Regions from separate parts of the Homo sapiens genome. Here region 1 is linked to region 2. The links come from fine-mapping of genetic effects on gene expression. A gene starts in region 2. The other region holds a variant in brackets. All regions are shown on one strand. Distances are between the middles of the regions.

Evidence for each region. PIP is the estimated chance that this variant, and not a neighbour inherited with it, causes the effect. A credible set is the group of variants that fine-mapping cannot tell apart.
Region 1: its variant is the best candidate, but not a certain one, in a credible set for the expression of MEF2C in whole blood (TOPMed, PIP 0.58).

The regions. Positions count from the first base shown.
Region 1 is chr5:89,410,678-89,427,584 of GRCh38, forward strand. All of the region lies in intron 8 of MEF2C-AS1 (MEF2C antisense RNA 1), which reads left to right. Among named protein-coding and RNA genes, the nearest start is that of LINC02161, 160 kb to the right of the region's middle. The variant G/A (reference allele first, on the strand shown) is at 8,074.
Region 2 is chr5:88,874,170-88,891,076 of GRCh38, forward strand. It overlaps MEF2C (myocyte enhancer factor 2C), which reads right to left and starts at 9,015. Exons shown (of 11, transcript NM_002397.5): 1 at 8,786-9,015. It overlaps MEF2C-AS1 (MEF2C antisense RNA 1), which reads left to right and starts at 9,161. Exons shown (of 10, transcript NR_136219.1): 1 at 9,161-9,316. RefSeq lists enhancers at 10,073-10,122, 15,168-15,704, 15,291-15,490, 15,705-16,239.

The sequences.
Region 1 (16,907 bases), 540 kb after region 2:
AATTAGGTAGCGGCTATTTTACAGATATATCATAATTGAAAAATAGGACTAGATAAATAAATAATAGGTGATAGAGTAGAGATAGAGATAGGATTGAAAATCCATCTTGCACAAGCTGCTTGTAGAAAAGCCCTGGCTACTTGGGGTCTCTGAGTGCTTGGATAACTGAATATCACTACTGTCTCTTATAGATCTTTTACCTTCTTAAGGGAAAGTAAGCTAATGGCTTTCTACTGTTGTATTATAGGTAATTTTATGAGAGTAGGCTTGCACTGGCTTTCATCCTTGAATGAAGTCCCCCTTCATAGCTCTTCACGTTGAATTCTTGCCCTAACATTACCATCTCAGATGCCAGCCCTGCCATGAAGTCTTTGCTGATGCTTCAGACATTTAAGACACCTGTATATTTCCACAGCATTTTGTTTGTATTTTTGAGTGATTTGTCATGTCCTTTTTACAAAAAAAATTTGGATGTGTTTCTTTTCTATTCCTTCCCTCCCTAGAAACATTTTGTGGGAAAAATTGCACATTAACAGACTCTTGATAAAACATTTGTTGAGTTGCATTGCATTGACTTGAATTTGTAGACAATTTTTAAGTGGAATGGCTAACAGAACCTTTCTAAAAGTCCATCCATCTGTTCTATTGATAGTTGTTATGTATTATTAGAAAGATTTCTAATTCTAGGTATATGTATGCAAGTATAAATGAACTAATTTTTCATGTATTAGAATTACTAATTTTTCATTAGTTTTTTTAATGACATTTATCAAACACATTATGGTAAAATTTTCATAATAGCAAGTGGTTAGCAGTATTCAGTTGCACTCTTTGCAACTACCATATTTTAAATAGTTTAATGACAGGAAGGGACAAATCTTTCAAGTATTTTTATCAGCTTATTTATCAGTATTCTTGTTTGCTTTGAGGTGAAAACACTAAATAATATAAAAATCAATGTATAGGCAGTATAAATGTTACCATCATCATTGTGACTGACCAAAGTGTATAATACTTTAAACATAATAGCAATATGCTGAAAATTAAAGCAATTTTATTGATTTTTATTTCTAGCTTTTAACGCATCACTGGTCCTCTTCCTTTCACGAGTCAATTTCCTTTACTGCTCTTGCTCATTCACAATAAATATTTACTATCCAAGTTCTGTTACCACCACTAATAATTACAATATGTGTGAATATCCTGATGCTTAGCCATAATGATACCACTACAGTCAATGCTCATCGAACTACCATTTGTGGGAAACTGCCTTATACTTTGCTTTCCAAAAGCCATTTTTGGTACTGTCCTCTGATTGAGAGTCCATGCTTCACTCAAACAGAAGTCTATCTTGAAATTCTGGTCCATTACATAATTTTCAGAAGCTGGGAGAAAGGCATTTGCATCATTTCTGTTCCCAGATCTGTTCAATATATACTTCCAGTCTGTCATGCCTGAAATTAATTTTTTTTACAATCTGGATCTTTACTATATGCTAAAAATTCAGTACAAAAAAGGACCTCCTTCTGCAGAGAATATGTAAGCCAGAACATCGTGTTCCATCTTTATAATGAAACACATAGTTCCAATCAAAAGGCAAATTTGTTTCAAAATGTTTAAAGAGAATAATGCTTTAAAGGATTTCAAATGGTTACTTTGTAAAAGTGAGAAGATTTCTATTTTGCTATATATTTTGACCTGGATCATGTAATTTGTATGTAAACTACACAACTTTTTATTTATTTTAAGCTATTTACCCCTTTGTGTTTCATGCTTCTGAGATTGGAAAACAAATGTGAATAATATTAGAAATAGTTTCTCTCAAAACACATTCAATTGTATGACCATTAAAAATGTAAATTGTGAGTATTTATCAACAAGTTCTAAGCAAATGATAATATACAGTTTAGACTCTTGAGTCAAGAAGCTTATCATTACCACAATTTAAAATTTTGTTTCTCCAAAACTAGAAAATTACTCTTCTTTATTTTGTAAACTTTTCAAAGTAGAATGACCCTAAAAACTAAATTTCAAATATTAGAAAAAGAAAATATGATAGCATTAAAAACAAAACAAAGAAAAACCCTTTGTTGGATCTTGGGAATATTACTCACCTCTGAAATTATATTCATTCCTCTGTAAAATGGGAATAGGCACATGTGAAGACTAAATGAAGTAATGCATATAATGGCAATAATACAGAACCTGAATTAGATTTCTCTTCTCCTCTTATGTCTCCTCTTCCTCCCCTGCGGCTTCACCTACCCTCCACCTCCCCTTCTTTATCTCTTTTTCTCATTTTCTTAGGTTGGGGCAAAAATATTTCCTTTCTCCTATTTCTTCTTCCTCTTTAATTCCAAAATGAGGCTTTTGTTAACATAGCATTTTACTTAGATCCAAGGTTCAAACTGAGACCTCTATCACATCAAAATCATACTTTTCTGTAACTTTTTAATTTCCCCTGGAAGTTCTATTGATTTTTGCATAATGAACCTGTCACAGACACATAATGAGATTAAACAAATTTTCAACTTCTGACAAATACTATGTTTCTAAAAACGTTTGCCTTATGCTTTTGGATACTATATTGTTTGGTACATGAATATTTGTTAATGTTTGGCTTTTATTAACATTTTTAAAAACTAGTAAATAATGGACTAGCTTATGTAGTGATTAATTTCTGATTTGTTTGATATTAATAATACTCATGATGACTTCACACAAAGTTTATTAATAAGTCTTTGTCATTCTCTTTTTAACTTTCTGCATTTCATTTGCTCTAGGTTCATGTCTTACATCTAGCTAGTATTTTTTTCACTTCAATCTGCGATTTTAACTCATTGTTTACATAGTATTTCCATCTATTTTTCTATAAGACGTTCTCGTTCTCATCTAATGAACACTTTTATTAGTTAGACTTAACTTATAGTTGCATTTTTACCCTAGTTTTGATGTTTACATTGTGTTGAATGATTTAAGAGGCATTGCACAAATATTCTTATTCCACGCTTATATATATTGGTCTAAACTGTCATAGAGTGTAAAAAGTATTCGGCTTTTGCCCAAACGTTCTCCATTCTCTTCTAATTTTTTACTAACTTTGTCTGCATCTTTAACAATAACTTTTTGTTTTCTTTTTGTATTTTGATTACGGTTGTTGTTCCCATTTATTGTTGGAGGTAAGTCTGCTTGAATTGCTTAATCAATCAAAATCCACTTATCTGATATCGATAGGCATCACAAACTAATCACAAAGGGGCAGTACTTAAATCATTTGGCTGCCTATGACTGAAAATAAAATTCATAGTGATTTAGCTAAACAGAAAGTTTATTTTTGTCACTTCACAAAATTCTGCAGGTGAGAAGTCCAGGGCTTTTACAGTAGCTTTTGAAATAATATTTAAGACTTACTCTCTTTAACCTCTTCACTCAGCTGATTTTAACATGAACACTTGCCATTGTGCTTGCCATTCCATGCTTGTAAGATGGTTAGCCACCACCAGCTTTGTATCTGAGTTCTGGGGAAGAAGAATACGAAAGCCAAAGACAAAGGCCATGAACCTCTAATGTCTTCCCTTTAAAAAGCTTTATCCAAAGCCCCATCTGGAAAATCCAAGTTACATTTCATTGTGCCAGAACCTTGTCAAATGACTATTTTTATCCACAAGAAAGGATAAGGAATATTATATTTCAACTGGAAACATTGTTGCCCCATACAAAATTAGGTTTCTATTATAACCATAAAGTTGTAGAGAATAGACATTGCATAGGCAAGTAGCAAAGTCTTCCAAGAGAGCTAATCCTTATGTTAGTGTTATATGATTCTAACCCCCAATCTACCCAACCTTTGGCTACTAATGATTGGTTGTGTGGTAGACCCTTAACTTTGGGTCAAACAGATTTCTGTGAGTCAATCAGGAACTATGACTCAAAGATGAAATCCGAATTGTGTGTTGAAATTCAGAACCAACATTGGGCACTCAGTGTCTACCATGTGCATACTGAAATAGGGATAGCCTGGGGAGAGAAAAGAAAAAAGAAAATAAAATTGCACTACAGAAGTATTAGTATTAAAATACCATGTAGCCTAAGAAAGATAAAGAAAAAATTCCCTTCTTGTTTCTTCAACACATTACCCTTTTTGGCCCAGCTAGTGTGATAGCGATTCTGTTTCTCAATTTAGGCATATAGGATAACATAGCATCTTTCTCTCTTGGTGGTTTTTGTTTAGTTTTGTTTTGTTACTTCTGTTTAGACACAATTCAAACTCTGTGGAAGCAGGCGCACATATTTCTGTTCAACATTGTATTTACTCTGCCTAGCAGAGCATCTAATAGATAAGTATTTGTTTAATAAATGAGGCTTTATGTAAACTAAGGATCTCTAATTCTTTTTTTTCTCTTATCTTTTATTTTGTCATTGGTTTCACTGGAAATTCCAGTTTTCTTTCTACAGAAGCATTCCCTTTTAAGAGTTACTTTTGTTTAATGATTTCTGGACAGTGCCATTAATGATCCTGTAGGAACAGTTTATTTTGGTGTGCAAGTTTTCAGAAAGTAAACTCAAATGATAAAATCTTTCTTTTGTGTTCATATAGGAGGAGATAAATAATAGGTAGTATCTCTCTTCACCAATTGAGAAATAATATGTGGAAAAAGACAGAGAAGGCAACCAAAATACCAATTCTTCCTTTATAGAGGAATTGGCTTATATCTGTGTTATAGTGTACTTCCTAAATGTTGAATTTCAGAATTAGGCATACTCACCCACCCAGCGACTCTGAAACAAGAATGAAAGAGTGAATTATATTATATCGTCCTTATGAGTTAAAGTTCAAAGAAATTGAAGTAAGCACACTCAGTCAGAAGGACTCTCCCATTAAAAGGTTAATTTTGGCCCTATGCATTCAGCATGTGGCAGGGACTAAAATCCATTTATGCAAAATGTCTCATCTTGCAAAAAATTCAATTTGAGCCATCATTAGATTCTTCCATACATTTCTAAATTTGCCTTTATGGCATCTCCATTGTGAAGTCTTTTATAAAGTTCTTCCTTTTCTGCATAGTCTATTCCAAACACCTGAATTCCCATTTTCTCCTTGGTTTTGTGTTTTTGCATTGTAGAATTGAATTGAATGACTTTTGAGTCACAAAGCCCACACTCTCTTTATGAGCAAGCATTTCCATGTTTCTGGCACTATGACTGTTTTCACTGCCTCTTGTTACAGAATTGTTTGGGTCTAAGAAATTTACCTATGAAGGAAGTTTTCCTCTTCATACATAATTAACCAATCTGGAACCAATGTGTAATTGTATAGTAGAAGACAATTATTAAGTCTTATTCAAAAACTATATTAATTTGAGATTACTCCCCTCATCTTCTCATTCCTGGTACTGAATGCAATATGGATTTTGAGTTAGCTGATCTAGCACTGTCTGTACAGGGATAAAGCTTATAATTTAAATTAGAATCTCACTAGGGTACATGAAACTCATTTGTTTTTTTTCAGTTTAAAAGAAGTTGTATTGTTCTTAGCCATTGCCATAAAGACTCTTCCAGCTCACCCTCCATGATCCTCTTTCTGTCCCCAGTAAATATTTGCTTCAGCTGCTTCTGCTTGGATGTGAGCTGGGGAATGGAGTGTTAGGCAAATAGAACTCAGCCCTGTAGAAGAGAAAAGAAGCTCTTCCCTACCCTCCCTCCATGTATATGAGTGACAATTTGATTTTGCATGACATTAATGTATTACTGTTTTGCTGTAAGCATTCTGAGACCAGCTCCTCATCATATTCTGGCATTGATTTTATCATAACTTTAGGTTTGGTTCAGATGTAAATTTAGTTGCTATGTCTCTCAAGTCTTTTAAAATCTACTCTCTACTCTTCTTTTTTCCCCTCCAATTGACCTGTTGAAGAAACTGAATTACTTCTCTTGCAGAATTTCTCACAATCAGGTTTTTCTTACTGCATTCTTATGGCATATGTTCCTCTGTACCCAGCACACTAAAAATTAGATAGCACAAGCCTGATATGGTTTGGCTGTGTCCCCACCCAAATCTCATCTTGAACTGTAGCTCCCATAATACCCATGTGTCATGGGAGGGACCCAGTGGGAAGGACCCAGTGGGAGGCAATTGAATCATGGGGGCAGGTTTTCCCCAAGTGTTCTCATGACAGTGAATAAGTGTCACAAGATCTCATGGTTTTATAAATGGCGAAGTTCTCCTGCACTTCTTTCTGCCATCAAGTGAAGAAGGATGTGTTTGCTCCCCCTTCCACCATGATTGTAAGTTTCCAAAGACCTCCCCAGCCATGCTGAACTGTGAATCAAACCTCTTTCCTTTATAAATTACTCAGCCTCCTTTATCAGCAATGTGAGAAGACTAATACAGTACATTGGTATGGTGTAGTGGAGTGCTGCTGTAAAGATAGCCAATAATGTGGAAGTTACTTAGGAAGTGGGTAACAGGCAGAGGTTGGAACAGTTTGGAGGACTCAGAAGAAGATAGGAAAATGTGGGAAGGTTTGGAACTTCCTAGAGACTTGTTGAATGGCTTTGACCAAAATACTGATAGTGATATGGATAGTAAAGTCCAGGCTGAGGTGGTCTCAGATAGAGATGAGGAACTTGTTGAGAACTGGAGTAAAAATCACTCTTGCTGTGCAAAGAGACTGGCAGCATTTTGCCCCTGCCCTAGAGATCTGTGGAACTTTGAACTTGAGAGAGATGATTTAGGGTATCTGGGGGAAGAAATTTCTAAGTGGCAAAGCATTCAAGAGGAAACACAGCATAAAAGTTTGAAAAATTTGCAACTTGACAATGCAGTGGAAAACAAAAAATGATTTTCTGGGGGGATATTTTGGCCAGCAGCAGAAATTTGCATAAGCAATGAGGAGTCAAATGCGAATTGCCAAGACACCGGGGAAAATGTCTCCAGGGCATGTCAGAGACCTTCACAGCAGCCCGTCCCATCACAGGCCCAGATCCCTAGGGTGAAAAAATGGTCTCCTGGGCTAGGTCCAGGGCTCCCCTGCTGTGTGCAGCCTTGGGACTTGGTGACCTGCATTCCATCCACCCCAGCCATGGCTAAAAGGGGCCAATGTACAGCTTAGGCCTTTGCTTCAGAGGGTGAAAGCCCCAAGCCTTGGCAGCTTCCATGTGGTATTGGTCCTGCAGGTGCATAGAAGACAAGAATTAAGGTTTGGGAACCTTTGCCTAGATTTCAGAGGATGTATGGAAACACCTGGTTGTCCAGGCAGAGGTGTGCTGGAGGGTCAGAGCCCTAAAGGAGAACCTCTGATAGGGTGGTACAGCAGGGAAATGTGAGGTTGGAGCCCCCCACACAGAGTCCCCACTGGGGCCCTGCCTAGAAGAGGTGTGAGAAGAGGACCATTGTCCTCCAGACCCCGGAATGGTAGATCCACTGACAGCTTGTACCGTGTACCTGGAAAAGCTGCAGACACTCAACACCAGCCTGTGAATGCAGTCTGGACAGGGGGCTGTACCCTGTAAAGCCACAGGATGGAGCTGTCCAAGGCCCTGGGAACTCATTTCTTGTGTCTGCTTGACTTGGATGTGAGACATGGAGTCAAAGGATTTCATTTTGGAACTTTAAAGTTTAATGACTGCCCTATTGGATTTTGGACTTGCATGGGGCCTGTAGTCCCTTGGTTTTGACCAATTTTTCCCATTTGGAACTGGTGTATTTACCCAATGTCCAGCCCCCATTGTATCTAGGAAGTAACCAACTTTTTTTAAATTTTTTATCTTACAGGTTCATATGTGGAAGGGACTTGCCTTGTACCAGATAAGACTTTGGACTGTGGGCTTTTGAGTAAATGCTGAAATGAGTTAAGACTTTGAGAGATTGCTGAGAAGGCATGATTGGTTTTGAAATGTGAAGACATGAGATATGGGAGGAGCCAAGGGATGAATAATATGGTTTGGCTGTGTTCCCACCCAAATCTCATCTTGAAATGTAGCTCCCATAAGCCCCATGTGTTGTAGAAGGGACCCAGTGGGAGGTAAGTGATTCATGGGGGTGGCTTTTTCCCATGGTCTTCTTGTGATAGC[G/A]AATACATTTCATAAGATCTGATGGTTTTCTAAAGGACAGTTCCCCTTCACTTCTCCTTCCTGTTGTCATGTGAAGGACATGTTTGCTTCCCCTTCCACCGTGATTGTAAGTTTCCTAAGGCCTCCCCAGCCATGCTGAACTGTGAGTCAATTAAACCTCTTTTGTTTATGTTACCCAGTCTAAGGTATGCCTTTGTTAGCAGCATAAGAACAGACTAATAGGTTCAATCAGAGTGAACTTTGTTTTCAACAAGAATTCTCCATAGCTGGTATTGTGTACTTCCTTCATGAGGCATACAATTTCTGGGTATCTCAATGTGTGATGTTGATTAGCGCTGGTAATCATTGCCCAGTAATGTAGTTTCATTAGGCATTTAAAAAACGGTGATATTCTTCCATGTCTACCATTTTTCCCTCTTTTTTTAAGCTCAGAAAATTAATGATCTTCTCTCCATTTTGCATGTTGCTTAATTTTATTTCCTGTTTCATTGAGTGGTCGTTCGAGTCATTGATTTTCACTACTTAGTTATTTTCATTGATGACTTAGATTTTTCTTTAACAAGGTTTAATTGGTTCAGTTTTTGTTTTGCAGCTACTATGCTTTATTTTCTTCTGTATAAAAGAATACCAGCTGTTTTCAAAATCTACTTTTGTGTGATTGTTCTGTATCAGGAATAGCACAGGCATTTTTTTTTCTCCCAATTATTTTTTCTGGTTCTTTAAAATTTTACTAAGTCAAGTTATTATTATTGTTCTTCCTCTCTTCTTGTGATTCTTTGGCTAATCTCTAGAGATCTAGTCTAATGGTAGACAGATTTGAGATTTTGTGACAAGTGCTAGGTTTATGGCTCTCTTTGGTGTTGGAGAAAATTCCACTGGTGCCATTCACTGCGAAAGAAAAATTTTCAAGATTCAACTACAAACTCAAGGAATGGCTTAGTGATGTGACAAAGGAAACTGTCTGTTGTATTTCTGTGATGCTGAAACTTTCATTCTTATGTGAGAGCATTATACCAATAGCAAGATTTTCAACATGAAGTATCACATGGAGTTAGAATTAGGGAGCACGCTATCTTGGGGAGATACTTCCATTCCTCTTCTCATAATCTGCATAGTAAAGAATGCTCTATTTAATAGCAGGGTAGATCTTCCGTATTTGAAAACAAGGAGTATGTCAGCTGGAGATGAGCATTTCACTCCTGCTTTCCTCTTAAATTCTCCAAATTGAGTTTAGGGTTCAGGCGGATTTTTGCATCTGTTTTCTTTTTCTAGCCCTGAAATTATTAGACATATTAGGGGCTGGAATGTTCAGGCTATCCTCAACATAATATTTCCTATACTGCACACATTAAATTGATTTTACTGAGCCAATTTCTCTGAATTCAAGTTGTATCTGCCGTAGTACCTTTCATTCCTCCCCTTGTTAGAACAACAACTTCTGGCAGCATGCCTCTCCAGAAAGACTGCCTAGGGCCGCTTGACAGAAGACACCATTCCTAGGTTTTAACTCATTAGGTGACAGACTGTAGAAATTATTGTAAGAATTGAGAATTTATTTGGTTCTCTCATTCTTCTAAGCAACAGTTGAGAATTGTTTTTCTTTTTAGGATATCTTTTCATGGATATATTACAGAGAAATAAGAAAAGATAAATTTAGTTATATTTGTATCTTCTAAAAAGACCATTATATTTATTTATAAAAATGTATTCATTTATTAATACACATCCATTATAATTACTTTACTTTAACATAAGTATGCAGAATGCCTAGTAGTACAATATTACTTTTTGTATTCTCCACCTTAGTTTGGTAACATGACCCCTTTTTAGTCAATCATACAAGAAAATGACTTTGTCCTGAACCAAGGCAGGCTGCTGCTTTGAGAGGTCCCAAAGAACAGCAGGGGTTTTATAACATCAAGATAGTTCTTTCTGTGATAAATTTTACCTCTTTTGTTCAGGGCATGCATCAGAATTATCAACAAATAGTTAATTGGAAACAGTGCCTAGAATACAATTTTGAATATCATCCTTATTTTGTACAAAATATGGTTCTGTCATTTCCCACCCAGTTGAACTTGAGATTTTCATTTTGATGTTGAGAAAAAGAAAATTACAAGTAATAAAGTGATCAAAAGGCCATCTTCAGTGTAAGATTAATGCTGAGACTAGTATATTTACCATACAATTGTATAAGTAGAAGGTTTTTTATTTTTCTTTTTCTTTCTTCCTTTTTTGTAAGAAAGGAGTTTTAACTCTACATTTTGTGTTCACTCCTCACTTAAAGTAAAATTGGGTTAGAAAAGAGAAATGTGTGAAAGCCGTATTTGGAGTTGCTTTGTATAATTAATGAGTCATCATCTCCCTCAAGCAGAGAATCAGGAAGCTAACCTTTGCTGACTGTGATTATTAGTCTGAGAACCTCTACATTCTGACTTGCTATTTTCTCATCCTTAAGATTGCAATCTTTACTACTGTTCATATCATAAATGCTGAACCCAAAGGATTAGGCCCTAACCTAAAGGATTTCAACACCAATCTCTTCCAGAACTGAAGGTCTCTAAAGAGAAATTAGAGCATTCTTTTCCAAATGCTACTAACCTCTGCTGGCTGAGTTACTGGACTAACTTATTAATGTTTAACCTCTCAGTCATAAAATGTTGGTAATAACAATTTTATTTAGTCAAAGTGTCACATTGAATTTTATGGGAATGAACTTATTTTTCAGTGCCAATAACAAAGAAGTCAAATTAGGTAAATTTCTTTATGAGTGAAGAAAACATAATATGTGATTCCCTCTTATTTTTTTCCCCCTAGGCTGGAGTGCAGTGGTGGGATCTCACCTCACTGCAACCTCCACCTGCCGGGTTCAAATGATTCTCATGCCTTAACCTCCCGAGTAGCTGGGATTACAGGTATGTGCTAGTATGTCTGGATAGTTTTTGCATTTTTAGTAGAGATGGAGTTTCGCCATGTTGGCCAGGCTGGTCTTGAACTCTTGGCCTCAAGTGATCTATATCTACCTGCCTCAGCCTCCCAAAGTGGTGATTCCTAACTTTTTTTTTTTTTTTTTTTGAGATGGAGTCTCGCTCTTTCGTCCAGGCTGGAGTGCAGTGGCGCAATCTCAGCTCCCTGTAACCTCCACCTCCCGGGTTCAAGCAATTCTCCTGCCTCAGCCTCCCAAGCAGCTGGGACTACAGGTGCACACCACCATGCCCAGCTGATTTTTGTATTTTTAGTAGAGACAGGGTTTCACCATGTTAGCCAGGATGGTCTTGATCTCTTGACCTTGTGATCTACCCACCTCAGCCTCCCAAAGTGCTGGGACTACAGGTATGAGCCACCATGCCCAGCTGATTCCTAATTTTTAAAACAATAGTATCTCCTTGAGTATCACATCATGTGTGTTGTTTACTAGTTCAAGTAACTTTTCAGCTGCCTTCTCTTTTGTGTTTTGTACTTTTTCTCAATCATTAGAGTTCTCTCACTATCTTTACTTCACACACACTATTAAATGATTGATGAATATAATAATCTAATCTACAGAATGTCTCTCCAATTACTTTGTCACTTGTTACATTGTCAAATGTGCAACATATTTAATTAGCAAAAATACTACTTCTTTACTGATATGGATGCCCTTATTTCTTTCTCTCATCTGATTGCTCTGGCTAGGAATTCCAATAGTATGCTGAATAGAAATGGTGAAAGAAGATATCCTTGTCTTGTTCTAGATCTCAGTGGGAAAACGTCAACATTTCCCCATTCAGTATTAATGTTGGCTGTGTGTCTGTCATAGATAGCTTTTATTACCATGAGGTATGTCCCTTCTATGCCGATCTTGCTGCGGTTTTAATCATAAAGCGATGCTGAATTTTGTCAAATGCTTTTTCTGCATCTATTGAGATAAGCATATGACTTGTGTTTTTAATCCTGTTTATGTGATGTTTCACCCTTATTGACTTGTATCTGTTAAACCATCCCTGCATCCCCGGTATGAAACCCCCTTGATCATGGTGTATTATCATTTTGATATGCTGTTGGATTCACTTAGCTAGTATTTTGTTGAGGATTTTTGCATCTATGTTCATCAGGAATTGCCGATGATATGACTGCATACCTAGAAAACCATAAAGACTCATCTAAAAAGCTCCTGGATTTGATAAATTAATTCAGTAAAGTTTCAAGATACAAAATCAATGTACACAAATCAGTAGCACTGCTATACACCAACAATAACCAAGCTAAGAATCAACAACAGCTGCAAAAAACTAAAATGAAATGGTTAACAGTATACCTAACCAAGGAGATGAATGATCGCTACAGGGAAAACTATAAAACACTGCTGAAAGAAATCATAGATGACACAAACAAATGAAAACACCATCCCATGTTCAGGAAGGGGTAGAATCAATATTGTGAAAGTGACCATACTGCCAAAAGCAATCTACAAATTCAATGTAATTCCAATAAAAATACCATCATCATTCTTCACAGAACTAGGAAAAACAATCCTAAAATTCACATGGACCCAAAAAAGAGCCCACATAGCAAAAGCAAGACTCAGCATAAAGAAGAAATCTGGAGGCATCACATTACAAAACTTCAAACTATACTACAAGGTCGTAGTTACCAAAACAGCATGGTACTAATATAAAAATAAACAGTAGGCCAATGGAACTGAATGGAGAACCCAGAAATATAGCCAAATATTTAAACAAACAAAAATATAAAATGGGAAAAAAGTACCCTATGCAACAAATGATACTGGGATAATTGGCAAGCCACAGGTAGAAGAATGAAGCTGGATCCTCACCTTTATATTTCACCTTATATAAAAATCAACTCAAGATGGATCAAAGACTTAAGTCTAAGACCCGAAACCATAAAAATTTTAGGTAATAACACTAAAAAACTCTTCTAGACATTGGCTTAGACGAAGACTTCATGAGCGACAACCCAAAAGCAAATGCAAGAAAAACAAAGATAAATAAATGGGACCTAATTAAACTAAAAAGCTTCTGCACAACCAAAGAAATAATCAGCAGAGTAATCAGACAATCCACAGAGTGGGAGAAAATATTTGCAAACTATGGATCTGACAAAACTGACATCCAGAATCTACAAGGAACTCAAATCAGAAAGAAAACCCCAAAGAAGGCTATCAAAAAATGGGCAAAGGACATGAATAGACAATTCTCAAAAGAAGATATACAAATGACAAAAAAACCATATGAAGAAATGCTCAACATCACTAATTATCAGGGAAATGCATAGCAAAACCACAATGAGATACCATCTTACTCCTGAAAGAATGGCCATAATTAAAAAATGAAAAAATAACAGATGTTGGCATGGATGTGGTGAAAAGAGAACACTTTTACACTGCTGGTGGGAATGGAAACTAGTACAACCACTATGGAAAACAGTATAAAGATTCCTTAAACAACTAAAAGCAGAACTACCATTTGATCCAACAGTCCCACTACTGGGTATCTACTCAGAGGAAAAGAAGTCATTATATGAAAAAGACACTTGCACATGCATGTGTATAGCAGCAGAATTCATAATTATAAAAATATGGAACCAGCTTAAATGCCCATTGACCAACAAGTGGATAAAGAAAATGTGGTATATATGGACCATGGAATACTACTCAGCTAGAAAAAGGAATGAAATAATGGCATTTGTTACAACCTGGATGGAGTTGGAAACGTTATTTTCAGTGAAGTAACTCAGGAACAGAAAACCAAACATTGTATGTTCTCACTTATTAGTGGGAGCTAAGCTATGAGGACACAAAGGCATAAGAATGATATAATGAGCTTTGGGAACTTAGGGGGAAGGATAGAGGTGGGTGAGGGATAAAAGGCTACACATTGGGTACAGTATACACTGCTCTGGTGATGAGTGCACCAAAATCTCAGAAATCACCAATAAATAACTTTCCTGTGCAACCACGCACCATCTTTTTCACCCAAAATCATTTAAAAAAATACTACTAACACTAAATTGAACTTGTTTCATTTGTTGGGATGACATTAAAAACTCCCTAACTCTTGACTCCTGTGGTATTACTCTGTGACTTCAGAGTAACCTCCCACTTGCCTGAACTTTAGCATTTACAAAATTTCTCCTATTTTTTCTGCCACTATCTTCTTCTACACTACTTGTACCATTTTTTATTACAGTTATCCATTTCAACAACAAAAGTGATTATGTCACTCCCTTCCTTAAAAGCTTTGACTTCCTTTTGCATATTAGTTTTCCTTAGTTTGATGTAGAATCAATCCGCTTCAAACTTTGATTTGGTAGATAGGCAAATAGTCTCATCTGCAGTCTGAGTGATCCTCCTGTACTTTCAATAAGAGAGAAACACAGAACCAGGTAAAATTATGGTTTTGCATCTCTGGCAGGAGCAGAGGTTAACACATTTAAATGTCAGCTGCAGTGTTATCGTTCCAGAAAAGTTGATAAAGACAGATTCAAATAGGAAGCCCAAAAACCAGATAGTTTAGGCGGAAAGCCTCAGATGTCACCACATCTGAGAAAAGATCGTTCAAAGCAGTGTCAAGTCTTAAATGGTTCAGTGGCCAAGGTAACCCATGGCAATGAGTCCAACAGGTAAATCTGTGGGAGCAAATCTGGCAGTATTATCATCTTAAGTCTGCTAGTAACATTTTTATACAATTCAAATGTACTCAGAGGAATAGTAAGCTGACAGAGTATACAAAATGTTTAAAAGACCAATAGTGAGTGTAAAATTATCTCTTGCATTTGTGTTAAATCAAATTGTATTGCTATAACAAGCAACCCCAAGTTCCTGGTGACTTATAACAGTAAACATGTATTCCTTGCTTATAAGCCTGCAAGTTAGCACTGCTTTACTGTGCATGTCTTCTCATCCCAGGATCCAGGTTGAAAAAGTAGCACCAATCTGGGACATGCTTTTCCCCTGGCAGAACAAAGAAGCACCTATCCAAACTGTGCAAACACATTTAAAGCTTTTGTCCAGTGTATGTCACATCTAAGAGCAAAAGCAAGTCACATGGCTCAGCATGGCAATGAAACAGAAAATAATCTACCTATTGAGAGGCACGGTAAGAGTGGGCGTGAATTATACTCTTAGAGGGGAGATAGTGAATAATTAGGAACAACAACATCTACTATAAATATCAAATATACTATACCTTGTGCTTATTTTCTACCTATCATTCAGAATTAATCATTTTAGTATAGTCAGCCTTACCTTCAGGTAATTTGAATATTTGGTATCACAGGAACTCAGGCTGTGTATGATATCAGGTAATCAGCTATAGGAGAATGAATTAAGACTTCTAAGCAATGCGTATTTATTTTTATAATCATTTGTGTGTATTGATTACATCTTTACTTGGATTACTGGAGCATAATCTAAACTTTTCAGACATTAATATACCATTATAAGGCATTTTCTTGTATCTGTTTTGACTATTGCCCTGATTCATGCTTCTTCATTTTTCTGATACTAAAGTGGATTTAAATACCATGCATCACTCCTCTTTCTCTATATGCAAGGTTGCCAGTGGGTAGACTTGGTGGATACAACACATAACGATCAATATTTTGTTTCTATATAATATTTTAGGAAACTAATTTAGAAAAATAATATTTAAAAAATTTCGTTGTATTTCTTTGTTAAGTGAATGTCATACTTTAAACATATTTTATGCAATGATCTATGTAAACATTATGATAGTAATTTATCATGAATAATATTATGAGCACAGATTTAAGGCAATGCTATTATACCATATCCGAAGTCTCAAAATAAGCACATTACATTTAGATTCAGGGTGGACTGCCAATTTAGACTTGGAGGAAACTCTAAAGATTCTGAAGAATTTAATAAAGTTTCATGGGTATCTATTAGATACTTGACTTTACTTTCAAGTCTAGGCATTCATACAGAATAAATTAAATAGAAATTGGACAATCTGAGCTTCGGATAGTACAATTTTACATGAGACATACCTCTGAGTGGGTTAGAATAAGGCTCTATAATGAGCACATTTGAACAAAAATATAAGGGATAATTGTTCAATAAAGGACTTGCATAAAATCATGAGAAATGAAATCTTTCTTTTACCCTAATTTGCAATTTGTTTCCTGTAAAATTTGTCTCTCTTTTTTAGTCCTGTTATCATTGCTATGCTGATTTTAGAAATCATAAAATAATGATAACATGTACATGAGAAAAACTGCTGTAACAACATTTAGTTCATATATCAGGAAGGTGAAATTTGGAGAAGTGTTTTACTTTTCCATTTATAAAGAAGAATCTCAGGATAGAGGTTTTTTTTAGTTAATTTATGTAATCATCTAGTTTGTGGATTATTCGTTTAATTTGCTAATTTCCTACAGACTGAATTAAATCTATTCATTGTGTTGTTAATTGGGCAGAAATATAAAAAGAAATATTTCATCTATTCATTTTGCTACAGGATAATTGTGCTATAAAATTTCATAATAAATTGATTATTGGAATTCTTAGATGAGATAATATTCCTGTAGAAAGGGAAGATTTCATTTCACTTGATTTCCTTTTGCTGACTCTATGTGTGTCCTCCATGGTAATTTTACTACTTTTTTTTATTGTTTGTTTTCAGGATACATAATAATCTTAACATACATAAGCCTCCAAATTTTGCACTAGTTATTACTATTTACTTATGGTATTTTTGGAAAGGTGAGAAGACAAGATTTGTGATTAAGTATTAAAAAACATAGTAAATAAATATTTATGAAGTATTTAATAATCAGCAAGATAGCGAGTTAAATATAGGACCTATTGA
Region 2 (16,907 bases):
AATAGAGTCAACGTTTTAATCGGGTATAGTTTTATCATACTTAAATGGCAAGATAGCGAATTTTCTATTTTAAAATTTCTATTCCATACATATGTTCAATAGTTGAAACTTTACAATGTATCTGACAATACCAACGGGTATGATTCAAATGACCCTACTGTTCCAGAGAATTTCCAAGAAAATAAAGAAATCTCTTACAATAGCCTAAATAGAAGCATAGTTTTAATTTGAATTTTTAAATGTGTGTAATTTTCTAACAAATAAATGTCAGAAAGTATTGACTCATATATATATTAGCATTTACAAAACAAAGTTTAACATCTTTTTCCTCCCTTGCTAATGGGTCTTGAAAAAGTGCCAGGTGTAGGAATATGCCATTGTTATCATATTCTTATAAGCTGCCTTATACATTTTTTAAGATCTATGTTGTATTAATTTCTTAACAATTTATCGGGAACATTTGCATTCACAGAAAAATAAATGCTTGATATTTAAACATAATTAAAATTATCATTCTTATCTATTTAAGTTTCAAGAGAAATAAAATTAAATTACACTTAACTGTTGGTCTAATTTGGTAAATTTCATATAGGCAATTAATAATTAGTGTAGTGGGTTAACAACTAAGCTAACATTTATACACTATTCATATACTGTTAAATCAATAATTTAGTTTAAAAATAAAATTAGAACAAATATTTATTAAGTGGTAACACTTTCTCCTGAAGGCTCCCATTTAATACATTTCTAAAGAAGAAGGCTAGTTTTAGAAAGGTGTGCTGGCAATAATCTGATTGCACCTCATACAAATGAGAATTCTACTGATTGAAAGGAGCCATGGCAGCTAGAAATTATTTTTTAATAGGATTTTTTAAAAATCACATGGGTAACAGTTGAAAATGTAACTGGTAATTAAAGCCTGCTTCTTAACAAAGTTTTACTTTATTTTTTAAGGAGAAGTACAAGCTTTTAGACTATAGTTTCAGATACAAGGAATATTAGTGCAGATATTTAGAAGTCAATTTATTTTGCATGGTATTATACACAGAACTTACACTGTACCTTTCAAATGAAAAGCATAAAACAAATCTGAAAACTAAAAGCTCACATTTTCTCCCCCTGTACTCTCTATTTTGACCTAATAATCATTTAAAGTGTGGGTGTTTATCAATAAAAATTTTTGCAGCACCACACATTGTGGTGGAACGTTGCTATTTCCCGAGATAAGTACAAAAAACCTCAATGCTAATTTGCATCACAAAATGATCTAACATATCTGGAATATAATGCACAAGCTTCATTGAAAAGAAACCATTATATTTTTCTTTTCGAAACAAAAAGTACAGATATCTGATTGGGTCTGGGTGTGCTGGAGGTAGGGGGTGGGGAAGAGGTCTCATTTTCTATCTCACACCTATTGTTTTATGTATTCTAAACTGCTATATGGGAATAAAAAGGAAACATACTGAATCCACTTTGCAGTTAATGTCTTAGTAATTTAAGAGGCAGAATTTTCAAGTTAAAGAAGGGAAACATTATACTTTTCCTTTCCCAAAGGTATTTCCCCTATTTCCCAGGAAGAAGGCCCTCTGTTCCTTACCCTATGTAGGGGGAAATAAAGGACATTAGTTAGGGCTGAAATCACTCCGAGACAGAAGAGGGGAAGTTTATGATGTGGCACTGTGCACAGTATCTGGTCTGCAGCCAGGAAGTTTTCATTTTGTAGCTCTGCTGCCAGTACCTGCCCTGCATATTCAGGAATAAAAATATACCAGAACTCTACCTGAAAAACTGTGGATGTTACAAAGAATTAAAAGAGTTTATTTTTCTTTCTTTATCCTGAGTGTAATTACTGTTTTTTAAAAAGAAAGAGCTGAAACTGTAGTAACTGGAGTTTTTTTTTTTTTTTTTTTTCCTTTTTAAACTCCTCAAACTACCTTCCCACAAAGCCATTTAAGTTAAATGGTACATTTACAGACTCACCTACATGAAGGATATAACTTAAAACATCTGCTTAGACACATACGTTCTGTTCAGATATAAAAAATGTGGCAAAAATTTTTAAAAATATAGGACCACTATATTCTTAAAATGTGTGTTCTTCTGTGTGTGTGTGTTCATTCATTCAAGAGATCTTTGACTGCAATTAGGTAGTCGGTCCTATAAAGGCTTCCTTGTGTGACGATAATTTCTAAAAGTAAAATGCTCCAGTGAATATTTCTGCTAAATAATCATATCTTAAAATTACTTTAAAGAAATTCCAATCCCTCATGTTACATTAAGCAATAATGCCAGTTTTCCATAATATGCCTTAGTTGTACCACCTTATTCAGGGTCGACAATTAATTAGAAGACAAAAAGTATAAATCGCGTGTTTATTAAGTAGCAGACAAATTTCTTTGTCTGTCTCAACATATTTACATTAATGTGTTTATTTTCTAATTTTGAAAATAAATAAGCATATTTAAGCCAAAGCTGCCTGTCTTCGGGGTTTGGGGAAGGATGCACATTCTCTTGCTATCCTTCTAACTTGCTGAAAGAATCACAGGTGTGAAAAAAAGACAGGCATAGTTCTTGGCTGATTTTTAAAAAAACACTTCACATTCTATCGAAGGACCATATCCACTTCTTTTTTAATCCAATATGCTAGGAATCCATAGTATCTGAGAGCAATTTATATGAATTCTTCATGTGCATCTTATCTATGACAACAAGATAGAAGAGGAAAACCAGACCACCACGCTCATGATGCTATTTGGAAAAAGCAGGTTCTCAAAAGGGACTGATTCAAAGATCAGTTAGTTCCTCCAGCCTCTAAAAACAAGTTTTGGGTACTTAATTTAAATCACTGCTTGAGGACTTGCACTGTCATTCTACATGAATCCCAACCACTTGCAGGAGGAACAACATTGCTCCATTCATTTCAAATTTACAGCATTAAGAATTAATAAAGTCTTTATAATGTCTGCATTATTTAAGAGTAATGATTCCTGAAGAAATCTGCCTGTAATATGTTTACTGTTTTTATTGCTTGTAATGTCGTCAATTTCCTTTTCAATGCCCTCAAAAGATTCTCTTCATGTACTTTGAACTTTGTTTACATTGGCTGTATTTTAAAAATATATACCAAGATTTAACTTGTACAATAAAATGACAATGTACAGCAAATGAATTATGGCGATGACAAATAAATGTTACTCATATCACCTAAAACTAAACCATAAATTTGTATAACATGTATCACCTAATTTCCATATTTAATAGGAATATGATTTTTTGCAGTAAACATTAAAATAGTATCAAGGAGATGTGAGATAATAGTATATTAAATAACCTTTTCTATAATCTTATTTTTACAATGGTATTCTTTGTCATAGAACATTCTTTAATTATTTTTCTTTCACAGACAAAAATAACAAAAGAACATCAATGCCATCTTCGTATTCTTAAAAGAGAGGGGTAAGGAATGAATGCTTCCAGCACCCTTTATTTTGTTATGCCTCAATATTGTCTGTAAAATAACATGGTTACTAAAAAATTCTTGATTTGAGCAAGACCAAAATTATTACAGTGTACTTTACAGTTATTTCACGCATGAATGTTAAAACATACTGAAATTATAAAACTTTCATAGACTTTTTTTCAGTATTCAGTTTAAGATAGGTTGTCAATAAGAGCTACTTTAAAAAAAACTGACAATTTTCTTTGCTCACTAACTATAGGAGATCATTGCAAATTATTTTCTTTCTCATGCTGCTATTCACTTACGTACTGCATATTTGCTTCAATTCTCCAAGGGAAGAAATGTGGCTCTTGTGGGAAAGGTCCACCCCTTTCTACATGTTTGCTTCCTTGAACGAAAGGAACACACCCCCTTACATTCTTTGAAATGTGTCCAACAATTGTAATAGCACTGTATTATTGACTAAATTAGAAAATCTTAAGTGATAGTCAAATATTGTTAATACACTGTGTATTTTGAGTCAGGAGAACTAAATGACACATATACAGAATGAAGTTCAATCTAGTGTCTACACTTGGATGCTATAGAATGTTTGTGTTAGTAGAAGAAACTCATGAATGTTTTTGTGTACAGGTATGTTGTATGACACCTCAGGAAGAGGCCCATGAATGTTACAAGTTTTTGATGGCCTCCTTTCAATTTAAGACCCATTACAGGAATGACCCCTTTCTTTCATAAGTATATTGGATAAAAAACATTTAGAAACTTAGGAAGTAGAATCAGAGAGCTGTTTGAAATCACAAACATGCAAAAATATCACAGGTCTACGCTTACCATCCTAATGGCAGAAAACTCACACCAAAGTTGGCACCCACTAACTTCTACCTCATTAAGGCAAGCTGCTGGTCATTGGATATTGTGTTCTAACACGACTTCCCTTTATGTAGAATAATATGTTTCCTTCCAAGGAAAGTTTTTCTTTTGTTGTTATTTTCTAATAAATATACTCCATATTTATAGAAAATTTTGCATTTATCTTTGATTTTATCTTTTCTAAATAGTCTTTCTTTATTCCACTTTTACAAAGAAATTTTCAAGTGTAAAGACACAGCAGGAAAAAAAATTATATCTCTTTTAAGATATTTTAGTGTGTAAATGAAATGGATAGTCCTTGTGCAATTTATCAGGCATTTCAGAATGAACCCAACTGTATAATTCCCAGGCCTACAAAATGAAAGCTTTGTTATTTACCTATGTTTCTCACTTGAAATAAGAGTGAATATAAAGAGTGAATATATAACTGCAACTGAAGGTAATAAACTTGTTAAAACTTAGTAAGATATTGTGATGGTCAAAGAAAACCTGCAAGTGCGTGCCACAAATCCACTCAGATGAAACATCTCATTCACTAAAATTTTCTATCTTATTATAATAGTGCACAGAAAATTAAACACATAAATATTAATTTTATGTATCACAGATGATGTAGGCAATGAAAATGCAATGTTTACATTTATGGGTGACTCATTAGTGTTTTATTGTGTGAAACACTAGGAGGCATCAGTTGGGTAAAAAAGGACTTCAATTTTAGAAGAAGCAAAAAATTACTGTAAAGTTGGGTGTGTAAGAAGTTAAGATTTTCAAAATGTTATTATGTAAACCAAAACTTTATTCTCTGAAATAAACTCTCAAAACATCATATTCTGTTGTAAAGAATGATCTTTATATAACATTCATGAAATATATATATTATATATATATATAAAATTTGACCAATGAACTTTTATGAAGATATGTTTCACATATATGGATTCATAACTATGTAATTACACATTTTTATGTAGAATATATTTGGTAACAGAATAACATAATGGATATTGACTATTATGCATTTTCTGCTGAATTACTCAATAACATGAGTGTATGTTTTATTTCTGGCAAATTCTGTTTTGTGCTCTTTATAACGCCTCTGAAAATGTCTAATGCATTTAAGCCTTACAATACCTGCTTCATGTAAGCAGACAATTTAATGTTTGTTCATAAAGAAATGATGGAACTTAAAATTTACACAATGAAGACATACATAAAAAAGGACATGTTTTCTCTTACTTCACTACTGAAAGCCTGTCATTTGAAAACTGAATTTTCCATTGTTTGAATGGATCATAATGATGAAGCAACAGGGTCAAAGTATGCTTATCTAAGCAATCATTTGAAATTGAGTGTCTTGCCATTCCTCAACAATCAGCTTTTATCTTTGACCTATCAAAATAACATGTGAACTATGTAATCTGCCTTTTGTAACGTGCATAGACTCTGTTGTTCCTGGTTTTGTGAATCACCTCTGTAATCTGGTTTGATTTCCTAAAGGTGACAGATCTCGGTGAACAGTCAAGCTTTACTGAGTGCAAGACAGTCCACGCGCCTATAAGATTAAGGTACAGTGCTAAGGACGGGGATCTTAATTACCTGTCTTTCCACATGCAGCATACTGATGGAACAACAGTGATTAAATCATTTCATCGTGTCTAGGCAATCACCACATTAGTATAGAATGAATACGTGTATTTTGATAAGTTTTAGATATTAATTTGTGTGGTATTTTCTCAGAGGATGTGCTTTTGAAAAAAAAGTGTAACTTTATTAATAATCTCTTAACAGTTCATCTTGTGACCATTAATTGCATATTAAATTCTTCTATGTTGCTTCGAATCATGTCCCCAAAGCCAGAATTCTGTTTAATAACTATGTCTTTGTTGTTATGTAGCACAAGTATTGCTGCACAGCTATTTCCCCATTTTTGTCACTTTCTGAGATTTCATAGACTCAAATTATACCACACTTTAGAGTTGAGAAATAAAACCACAAAATATACTACAATAAACAGAAGAAAGTTTTAAAAGATAATGTTAAGATATGCTAAGGAGTTATTCAGTGCTGTTCTTTATAAAAGAAGTTTAAATAAAGTATTTATTAGAAAGATACGTTTGCAGTGTTATGGAATTTATTGATTCCGTTAAGTTAGGGCCAAGGAAAAAATTTCAGGTATCTTTTCCCCCAAATTTTTCAAAATGAACATGTTTACAAAGAAGAAAAGAGGCAAAGTGCCTCTTGTTATCTAAGTTTCATGGAGTTATCTAGTATTAATGTGCTTCTCTCTTGAAAAGTTAATATCTGTGATTGCACACTTTTAAAATATGAATAGCTCAGAAAAGGTGGAAAACTGTTTTTATTATAAATTGCTCATTTGTTATTGAAATAAAAAACAAATTAACATTTAATAAAACTTACACTTTAATATTATCTTTCAATATATTCCACATGCACAGCAATCAGGACGTAAATGGTGCAATTAATGAATGAAGTAAAATGCTGCCTTTCCTAAGAAGTCTGAAAAAAAGTCAAACATTCGAATGCTGTGTGAATTATATTAATAAAAATAGTAGGTTTTTATAAAATTTAGTAAAATTTGAAGTAAAGGTAACAGCCACCTACTGTCTCTTTGACGGGAGAACCAAATTTTAAGCAAATGTTATGTTTAAAGACTGTTTTGATGAAAACTTTTAGAATTGAGTTAGTAGCAGAATACATAGCTAAATGTACTTTTCTACAAATAGAATGAGATATTTGATTTAAAATATTTCTTTCCTCTTGAAATAGGATGTTAGATAGGGACATCTCATTTTACCTATCAAGTTCTGAGTCTTGCTTTAGAACTACTTCTTTTAACTTAATTTCATGCATACACTGGAAGACAATAATATGGCTTTTTAACTGCATTATCTTTAGTTGAAACTGATGGAGAAACAAAAATACTGCTTATACCATATTGGTACATGCTGAATGTTTTTAAAGACTAGCCAAAACTGACATTTTTTAAAATTAAATAAGATGTTTTAGTTTCAAATTAGAGATTGTTGATCTATTTAAAGCTAAAATTGGTATGCAATACGAGGTTAAACGGGGTTCACAGGTGGTCACATTTCCATGTCCTACCAAGTCTCTAGGGATTGGAGTTATTATACTCCACATAAACATCTTTACTCTGCAACCACAATTCCATTGCAAGGTGCCAGTGAAAGTAGGCTAGTCGCTTTTTTTTTTTTTGGACTGGTATAATGAGGTGGCTGGAGTTTCCTTTATAGCACTTAGAAATTATATGCAGTCCCCAAGCATTTCATAAGACAGTTACTATTAGAGTTAGTTTCAGATTCACAATAGTAAAACGCACTTTGTGTCAAAGCAATTCTCCACTGAGGACCGGTTAAGGAACTGGCAGAGAGCCCAATTCTACTTAGTCTACTGTCAGCATTTACATATAAAGTATTTTATACAAAAGACACGCATTCCTAAAATGTGACAAAAAAAGGCTCTCCCCAAAGAATGATAACTACTGGACTTAGAATAGTCAGAAGTGATTCAGATATAAAATTTCCTTTAAAAAGCAATAGCCATGTTCAGGGAAGGAAGGTAACATTAGCATTAAATTTAAATACTTCCACAATATTTAATAATAAAATAAACAATGTGCCACATCTATATATACTTCCTTTGTGACAAACTTTATCATCGAGTTTGGTAACTTTCATTCCAAGTCCAAAGAGAAGGCAATTTAAGTGACTTAACCTTGCTTGCTTTTAAACAGCTATGTATTTGACTTGACCTGAACAGCAATCCATATGCTGAAATCGAACGTGAATTGTGAAATGTGTAGACTACTATGGCAGGGATATTACTTTTTGTCCACACCAATTAAGAAGCCCTCTGTCAAGCCGGCACTTTGGTGAGGGAAGGAAATGCACAAAGGTATACTCTGACAGACAGCCATGCTTTAGGTCAAACTAATCCCAAGAATTAGTGGCTCAGAAGCATAACCCAGGGCAAATCAGTGTCTTTGGGGGGACTCATGGGAGCATCTTTCCACAGTGAACTAACTGCTAAATCTTAAGGCGTCTACTTCAAGGTCACAGAACATGCTGTGAAATATTAAAATCCACCAGGCTCCACACGCTCCACCATATCAAACATGCTAATGACGTGAACTAACTTCATGAAACTTTAAATACACTGGTGTGACAGGAACGAGTCAGGAGTGATTTCAATAGCTGATGGCAAACGGATACGACTATCTAAAAAGTTACTTTTAGCAACAAACAAGGAAATCATGGAATCTAACGAAAAAGAATGCACAACGAGCCTCAACTTCAGCCTTCAAAAAAGGCACAGGGATAGATAGACACAGTGCCGTGGAATATATTGATGCAGATTTTAGAGACAATACCCGGGTTTTCTATTTCCTCGAGAAATATCAGGGGTACTTACATGAAGGAAGACCCGATCAGATTAGTCCTTGGGATATTTTCCTTTCTTAAGAGAGAGAGAGAGAGAAAAAAAAAATAACAACAATAATCTTTACTTCGTCCAGCGTTGAAGTGCTTCTCCACCTGATTCAAACATGCAGCCACGGCGACCCACACAGAACCTTCAAAGTCAATCCAATAGCAGCCCGAAGATGTCTGGGTGTACGCGTGTGCTCAAGTGTCTGTGACTGCGAGCAGAGCGAGCAGAGAGCTGGAGACGATGTGTGCGTGTGTGCGCGCGCGCGAGGGGAGCGCGCGCGAGGGGGGGGGCGCGGGGCCGCGCATTCGCGCGCGCCGAGGCCGCTCGGAAGAGGAGGAGGAGGAGGAAGAAGGAGGAGGAAGAGAAGGAGGAGGAGGAGGAGGAGGAGAAAGTGGCTCTCAGCGGCCGGTCGGATTAAAAGTAACCAGACTCGTCCAGAAAACTGCGTCCAGGAAGGAAGTGACAGAAGACGAATGGGAAAAGGAGAACAGCTCACAGCGTTTGAAACATCGCGTAAAAAAGACTGGGGGTGGTGGGGGCGGGGGGGATTGAAGGATACTGGGAGGGGAGGCGGGGGTGGTAGGGAAGACGGAGCACGAATGGTTGGGGTTCTAAGCAGCACGTCCGATGAAATGTCTTTTGCCTCCTTTTTTCCCCCTTTATTTAATTTTGTCCTTGCCTTTGCTTCGCGCTGCCTTTTTCTCTCCGTCTCTCTCTCCCCCACAATCCCAAACCGTTGACTCTTTCCTCGCGAGCTGGAGAAATCATCAGTTTCACTCTTGCAAAAGGGGGGCGGGACTAGACCTCGGAGCATTTTAATAAAACAAACATACAGCAGCTCCCTCCTCACCCCTCCAGTCTCAACTAGATTGATAAATTACTCCACTACACTACTTTAATTATGTATATGGTATGCAGAATAAATCACTGAACATCAGTACCTCAATCAAGCACTTTTAAATGATAATTGCATCTTGGTGAATCAATCTTTCCATTCCTGACATTTTGCTAATTTTAGTTTTACGGTGGGGTAATAGCACATGCCATACGCAAACCTAATGACAATTCTTTATTGCACGAAATGAAGACAACACGGCGAGCTGCGGCTCCCTGCTCCTCTCGCGGCGCCTCTGCGGAGGACGCTCGGAGAGAACCTAGTCTCCCGCTGCGGCGCGCTCGCTTGCTCTCCGGGGACGCTGCGAGCCAGCCAGCAGGAAAGTCCTTCTAAAGTCGGGATCTTTCCTCTGACCAATAGGAGCGCGACCCTAATAGTTGCTCTTGTGACTTTTCCCCCTTTTGGACACGCGTTAGCCACTTCTCTCTTCCACCGGTCGGTGCGCTCCTCCGTTACTCACGCGTAAAAACCACGGTCCAGGATGTCTGCAGCACTCGATTCCAGCGTGCTTTTCCTGCACGCCCAGAAGTCGCGGTTTTCACCCTGAGAGGTTGGAGCGCTAGAAAGCGAGCCGAAAGGTTTCTCTAATGTTAGTAATGTACGAAATAATAAAATAATTACCAGTATTTGAGATCTCGACTTCATCGCGGGGCCATGAACTTTCTAATCAGTTTGGAAATATTTACCGAGGAAGCAGCTTCCTCGGAGTTCCCCCCCTCCCCCCACTCTATCTTTTCCACACCTTACTGGACTTCATCCAGGTCATTAACATGTAAACCAAACCAACTTCCCAAATGCATTAGGCTACCCTAGCCGATAGCTGATGACTTCACTTATCCTGAAGAGTTTCAGCTGCACAGGAAGCAGAAATAGAGACTGATAAGGGAGGATACTTATGTTAAGGTTAAAGCATGATAAACACTTTTCCTTACAAAAAAAAAAAAAAAAGGCTTTAATATTTAGGCTACTAGAGATTGGGCACCTCCCGCCCTAACCAACTGTTAATATATACCATGCCCAATAAAGCCAAAGATAAAATACATCAACTAGTATAGAATCATGAAAAGACAAGATTGCATGCCAGTAGAATTATAGATTACATAAAATGTTTAAACCAAACTATTTTTTAAAAAATATTGTGAAAGCAAGAAGGGAAAATTAATAGAACATGGAATATATGAGATTAGACAATAGTATATTGAAATATCTAGCTAACTAAAGATTTCCTCACTTTAGAAAATTCCTTTTAGCACTACGTTTAACCCAATGACTAGTTGTATTTCCTGTTAAGTTCAGCAATATGCCTCCAGATGACTATTTTAATATATGAGGACAGTATGGTTCAAAAAGCCTCCTGCTTCAATGTAGGAGGTATTTGATGTGAGTAGCTTCTCTCAGAAGAGTGGCCTCAACATTTAGGCAACTGTCCCAAGGCTTCACTTGAAAGGGGAAGGTTTATTTTATAGGCAAGTACAACTAGATCTGAACAATCTTCAAGTTCCAGCTCATCATTGTGACTATCAGCAAAACTAAGACCATTCCCTCCCTTTTATTATAGGAATGCATCACAAACTGTCACAAAGCAAAAACCATCTGAAATAGTAGTATTTCTTGCAGATTAGTATTTACAATGTATTTTGTTTGCCGGTTTTTCAAATGTTGAGTTTGCCATTACCATGAATTCATTTTAATAATATGGCAGAGAACATCTGTATCAGGTTTCCATTCAAAGTACAACTTCTCTGAAAATCCAAAAATTTAAAGGGCAAAGATATTTCGAATACTAAGATATGTCTATATATGGTGGTAAAAATAAAATTAATTTTCTTCAAGATTCACGAAGGTCCTGAAAAAGCAAAGCATTTGAAGGACCATCTAAGTTTATTGCCATAATACCTAAAATTAATGCAGTGAGTTACAACAGTCTATTTGACATGAGCAAACACATAGCCAATACATGAATTTCAGCCCTGCTGTTTTTAATGAATTATAGAGGGTATTTCTGTTTACCACAGTACACTTCAGTTTTAGATGTTCTTTCAAAAAGAAATTATTTTATTTTACCTTTTCATATTTTAAATAATTATTTAATAATACCCATTATAACAAACCCATAATTATTAATGATACTGCAAGCATTCAAAAATAAGTATAACCCCACACTGGATAATTTGAAAATAATTTGGATCTGGAATGTATCACAGTTGGCCTTTTAAAATACAGGATTTTCCCCTCAGCAGATTTAGCTTCTTAATTATGTGTGACCTAAGTTAATATTACCATTAGTTTTCTTCCCATGAGCCTTTACAGTTGAAGCAGAAGAGATATGAAGAAATATACATTAGAAAATCACCTGAGATTTAAAATTATTCATGAGTAATCCACAAAGTAGTTAATCCAGAGTGTGCTTTGTATTCTTTAAATACTTCTGGACTTTTGGTTTCTGTTTCTGTTTTTGTTTTTTCTTTAAAATCATCCTGATCCTTGCCATCTAATGATACTTGGTTAGGATCAGACTATTTTCTCATGTAGGGAGGAGCTTGTACTAGGTGTCAGGAGACCTGGATTCTCTATCTAGTTCAAAATTTGTGCCTTACTAAGGGATTTGTCCTTTCTAGGCTTCAGTTCGCTTATGTGTTAAATGAGTTCTGTAACCTATTCCAGTTCTATCATTGGAAAACAGAAAATGTTTCTACCCTTTAAACCAATTGGAAGGTAGGGTCTATCCAGTTAAATAATAGGTGACAATTCCTTTAAAAGAAAATTATGTCTGGGATTGATGTACTACTGTACCAGCTTTTATTTTTTTCTAATCACCAAATATTTCTCCTACATTAAGTTGTAAATGCTTTATTGTTAATGTAAATATAGAGTCACTTGTTTTTCCCTCAAAAGAATTATGTTTAGCAATATATTTAATTAAAGTGTCATAGAAGTTACAGAGAGCATGCTCCTCGGGATTTTAACTCCAGGGAAAGCTAATATTGCAATTTCTGTTCAGAGCTGCATACCATCTTACTCCAACCTCCTCTCTTCACTACTTCCCTACATTAAAGCAGCGGTCCACTAAAGCCCTGTGCACTGGGTCTGCCTGCTTTTAAGCCTGGCCCACGCTGGGTGTAGCTCTTGAAGTGAGCTTTAAAAATTATTTTAAAGTGAACTGGGGCGGTTGCCACAGCAACCCACCCTGAGATGAAGAAAGGCTATAGATTAATGTACCCCTTAAGATTATTCAACTGTATAGTATTTGTTCCTCAGCCAGAATACTTTTAACACAAACATGATAAGTGAACATGGTGGTTTAGAAAAATCTAAAAAGCAGTGAAACACAAATTCCAATAGCATTACATATTTTAATCTTTGTCTAATTATAGTATTGATGATACACAGGACTTCCCATGAAATAGATTAATTTTATAAGATACAGTACTTGCAAAAGTAGGCCCTGAAAGATGACATGATCTTTAAGCAAAATGATATGTCATTGCTTATAATATAAAGTGTATGGTGGTCATTTAACTCTTTATTATTGTTATACACGTCTATTCTGTAAATACCTAAGGCCAAGGAGTTTGGCAGTTTTACCTTTATGGTAACTCTGTGGTAAATGATAAAAACAAATGTGAGCACTCACCACATACACTTCTTTACTGCCACAATCATTTGCCTTCCGTTCTTTACTTCATCTCTTCATAGAAGTTACTTCACAGTTTGCAACTCTTCTTTGGCACCTTCAAATGTGGAAGTGCAAAACAGTATATAGTATTTTGTTAATGCTGATATGAAAATACTTTCAAATAGATTTATTTCTAAAACTTCTAATCTGAAGTAACAATATTCTGATTTTAAACCAAAGTGTTTTGAATATAAGACAACTGAAATTGTCATGCATTGTGATAATAATCTTTAACATAAATAGTGCCAAATATCTAAATTTCAAAAATTCACTAGGTGCAGCATTAACCCAAGAAGAATATACAGCATGTGGAATGTCTGTGATTGAGAATTTGCAATATACAAAGGATTTGTTATTTCAAGACAAGGTTTACACATATCTAAGGATTCTATGTTTATCTGTATTTCTGTACCTTCAGTTTTATATCTGATAGAGAATTACAGAAGAATGTCAAATCCATTATATCCGAAGCTAACACAATTTGTCAAATCGGGAAATGTTTGCAATGCAGTTGAGGTTACTGAAAGGGCTTATTTTATGCATTGCCTAAAGGCCAATTTAAAATACTTTGGGATTAGTGATGTGTATTCAGTACGGTTTATAAATTCTATTACCAATAATACCTTATTTTTCCAAGCAGTGTTTAACTATACTGAGCACAGACAAATGCTCCTGTGTTCTGATTTCTGTTTTAGTCTGGCTTTCCATGACTTTGTGCACACAAATGAACCTTTCCTTGGCTTCAGACTGAGGCTAGTCCCAGAAAGAGAACCAGCCTTGAGACACATCAGACCAGGATGGTCAATATCTCTTTTCCCATTTGTAATAGCAGGAGGACTTTGCATAGTGAAGAATCATTTATAAAGCCTCTATATTTGGGTTGACATCTCTGAGGTTTATTTTTAAGTTGCTTCAGAGTCAAAGAGAAATGAAAAATTTTGGCCAGTTTTACTTTATGGGTGTTAGTTGAGTTTAGGTTTTTAGGCTTAGGCCCACAGTGAGTGAGTCCAAACTTGGTCTTGTAGTCACTACCAAGTGATTTGGTGAGTTCTCTTTCTTCCAGTTGTGCTTCATTTTACAGTCTATTAAGTGAGAATCATAATACACATCTCCCAGGGCCTATTCACCTTATAGAAATGCAATCTTCATGAAATAACATCTGAAAGGTATGGTAAGGTTTTTTTTTTTTTTTTAAACGACACTACAAATTATGATACATTTCTTTCTTTTCCTGTAATCAGTATGTCCAAATAAGGCTTGATCAGTAATTTGCTTGCAAGTGTGTGGCTGATTCAAAAATAACCACATGCATGAATAAATTTAATGCGACTTTACCTTTACTTACAAAATTGTTAAATGTTGTTCATCAGAACATTGATTCTATCCCATTTCTTGAAATATCACAGAAACCTTCAATTCAAGGAATGGATTTTCACACTTCCCCTTTTAACTGTTTCTTCTAGATACCTTACTATGTGTGTGCTTTTTCATTTTAAAAAATCTTTACCCGGGGTTGTGGTGGAAGTGGGGATTAAAAATCTCGTCCTGCGTTTTGGTGCCCACTTCTTTGTTTGGAAAGCAGAGCGCTGGGACTCAATCCGGACGGCCCTCAAAGACCCAGACGAGGGACGCCTCTAGTTTGAGCAACTCACTCCGCTGAGTTATTGATTGCAGGCAGCAACAATCCCTCCGGTTGATTTGTGTGAAAAGTGAATCCGCTCTGGCTGGGCGTTCAGCAGAGGCGCAACAGCTGCAACGCCATCCAATTATTGCCGATCCTCCCCTCCAACACTGCTCTCATCACCTATATACTCTTCTCTCTGCCCGTCTCTGCTTCCCCCCCCTTCCCCCCCCCCTTTTCTCCCGGCCGACGGAGCTGAAGGGGCGGGGGTTCCTTCCTTGGAGTGTTTCTAGAGCTCGGAGGCTGCTGGTAGGGGGTGAGTGCGCCACGTGCGTGCGCCACGGGCGAGCAGGAGGCAGGCTCTGGGCCCTCCTGGGGACCTGCTGGACCTGCTGGACCTGGGTGCGACGAGTGGGCGGCCACGCTGGTTTGGCGCGGGGAAGGAAGGGGGTGTGCCGACTTGTATTTAGTTGGGGGTTGTGGAAGTCACGGCTGGGGGAAAAGCGTCCGGTGGTTTGTTGGTAAAGAGGGTGCGTGATGGGCTCTGGGGAATGGAGGAGGGCGCAACGGCTGTGGGTGGACTGTGGAAACGGGCGGTGGCAGTGCCGGGGTAGTTGTCCTGCTGGTCTGGTTTTGGGATCCTGGGCTGGAGAAATGCGATCCAAAAGAGCTCGGGATGGGCTCAGAGCGACCCACGAAAATACCAGGGGCCAAGTAAAATGAACCCACCCTTTAACAGTGCACAAAGCGCTGGCACACGGTCCACGTCTGGTGACGCAGGCTGCCCGAAGCGCTCCAACCATTTTGCAAACCTGGGAGAGCAAGAGGGGCTCTGCAGGTCTAGCCGCCGCCCCTGTCCCACTCTGGCCAGCCGGAGTTTTTCACCTGACAGACCAATAGGAAAGAACACGGGCCCCAAACTGGATTTTATAGTCTGAGCTCTCAGCATCTAAGGAATTATATTTCAAAAAACAAAAGCCAACTCATAGCTCTATTAAGCTAACGCGTGTGCGAGTTTTGGCTAGGAAAAAGCCACAAAGTAAAGCAAGAAGTAGGGTATTCAGGATAAAACACACACTTTAAAGACAAAACAGAAAACTTCCTTTCCCCTTGTACCCCCTTTATTTGTTAACACAGGGGAACGGTTCTGGGATGTCTTACAAAAATGCTGTCACTAAATGCAGATATCTGTGCTGTTCTTTGACCTGTCTGGCATTGTGGAATACTCAATTACATCGAAGGTGTAAAAACGTTTATGTTATCATGTTCTTGAAACATTTAGCGGCTACCAAGATGGTAGCTATTTAAATTAATTAAAATAAGATAAAATAAAAATAAATTCTGTCCCTCAGTTCCACTGGCCATATTTCAAGTGCTCAATAGCCACATGTGGCTAGTGGCTCCCTTACTGGACAGCGACATGTCAAACGTTTCCATCACTGCATAAAGTTCTGCTGGAGAATACTGCTATAGAGTTCAAAATGAATGCTGGTTAAAAAAAGAAAGAAAGAAAGAAATTACTTTATGACTGATACCAGCCACATTTTAGGACACTCTTGGAGTTTCTGTTACTTGGCACTAGTGTGAGAAGCTTTAAAGTCAGACTTTCAGTATCTTCCTGCTGAAAGAGACCTTGGGGAACACTTCACCCAGACACCTAATTTTTTTATAGGCAAGAGAAATCAGGCCCAGAGAAGTTAAGTGATGCCCCCAAAGTTATGTCATAAATTTGGAAAGAAGATAAGGTCCCCTAACAGGGTCCAGTATACTTTGTGCCAGACAAGGACATCTTTCTAGGCAAATTCATCTTACAGAAAGTCAACTTGACTGAAAATTTTAGGCAAGAGTACCCTTTTACAAGAAAAAATACTGCTAAGTATTCCTCCAGGAAGAAATTCCATTTAACAAAGAA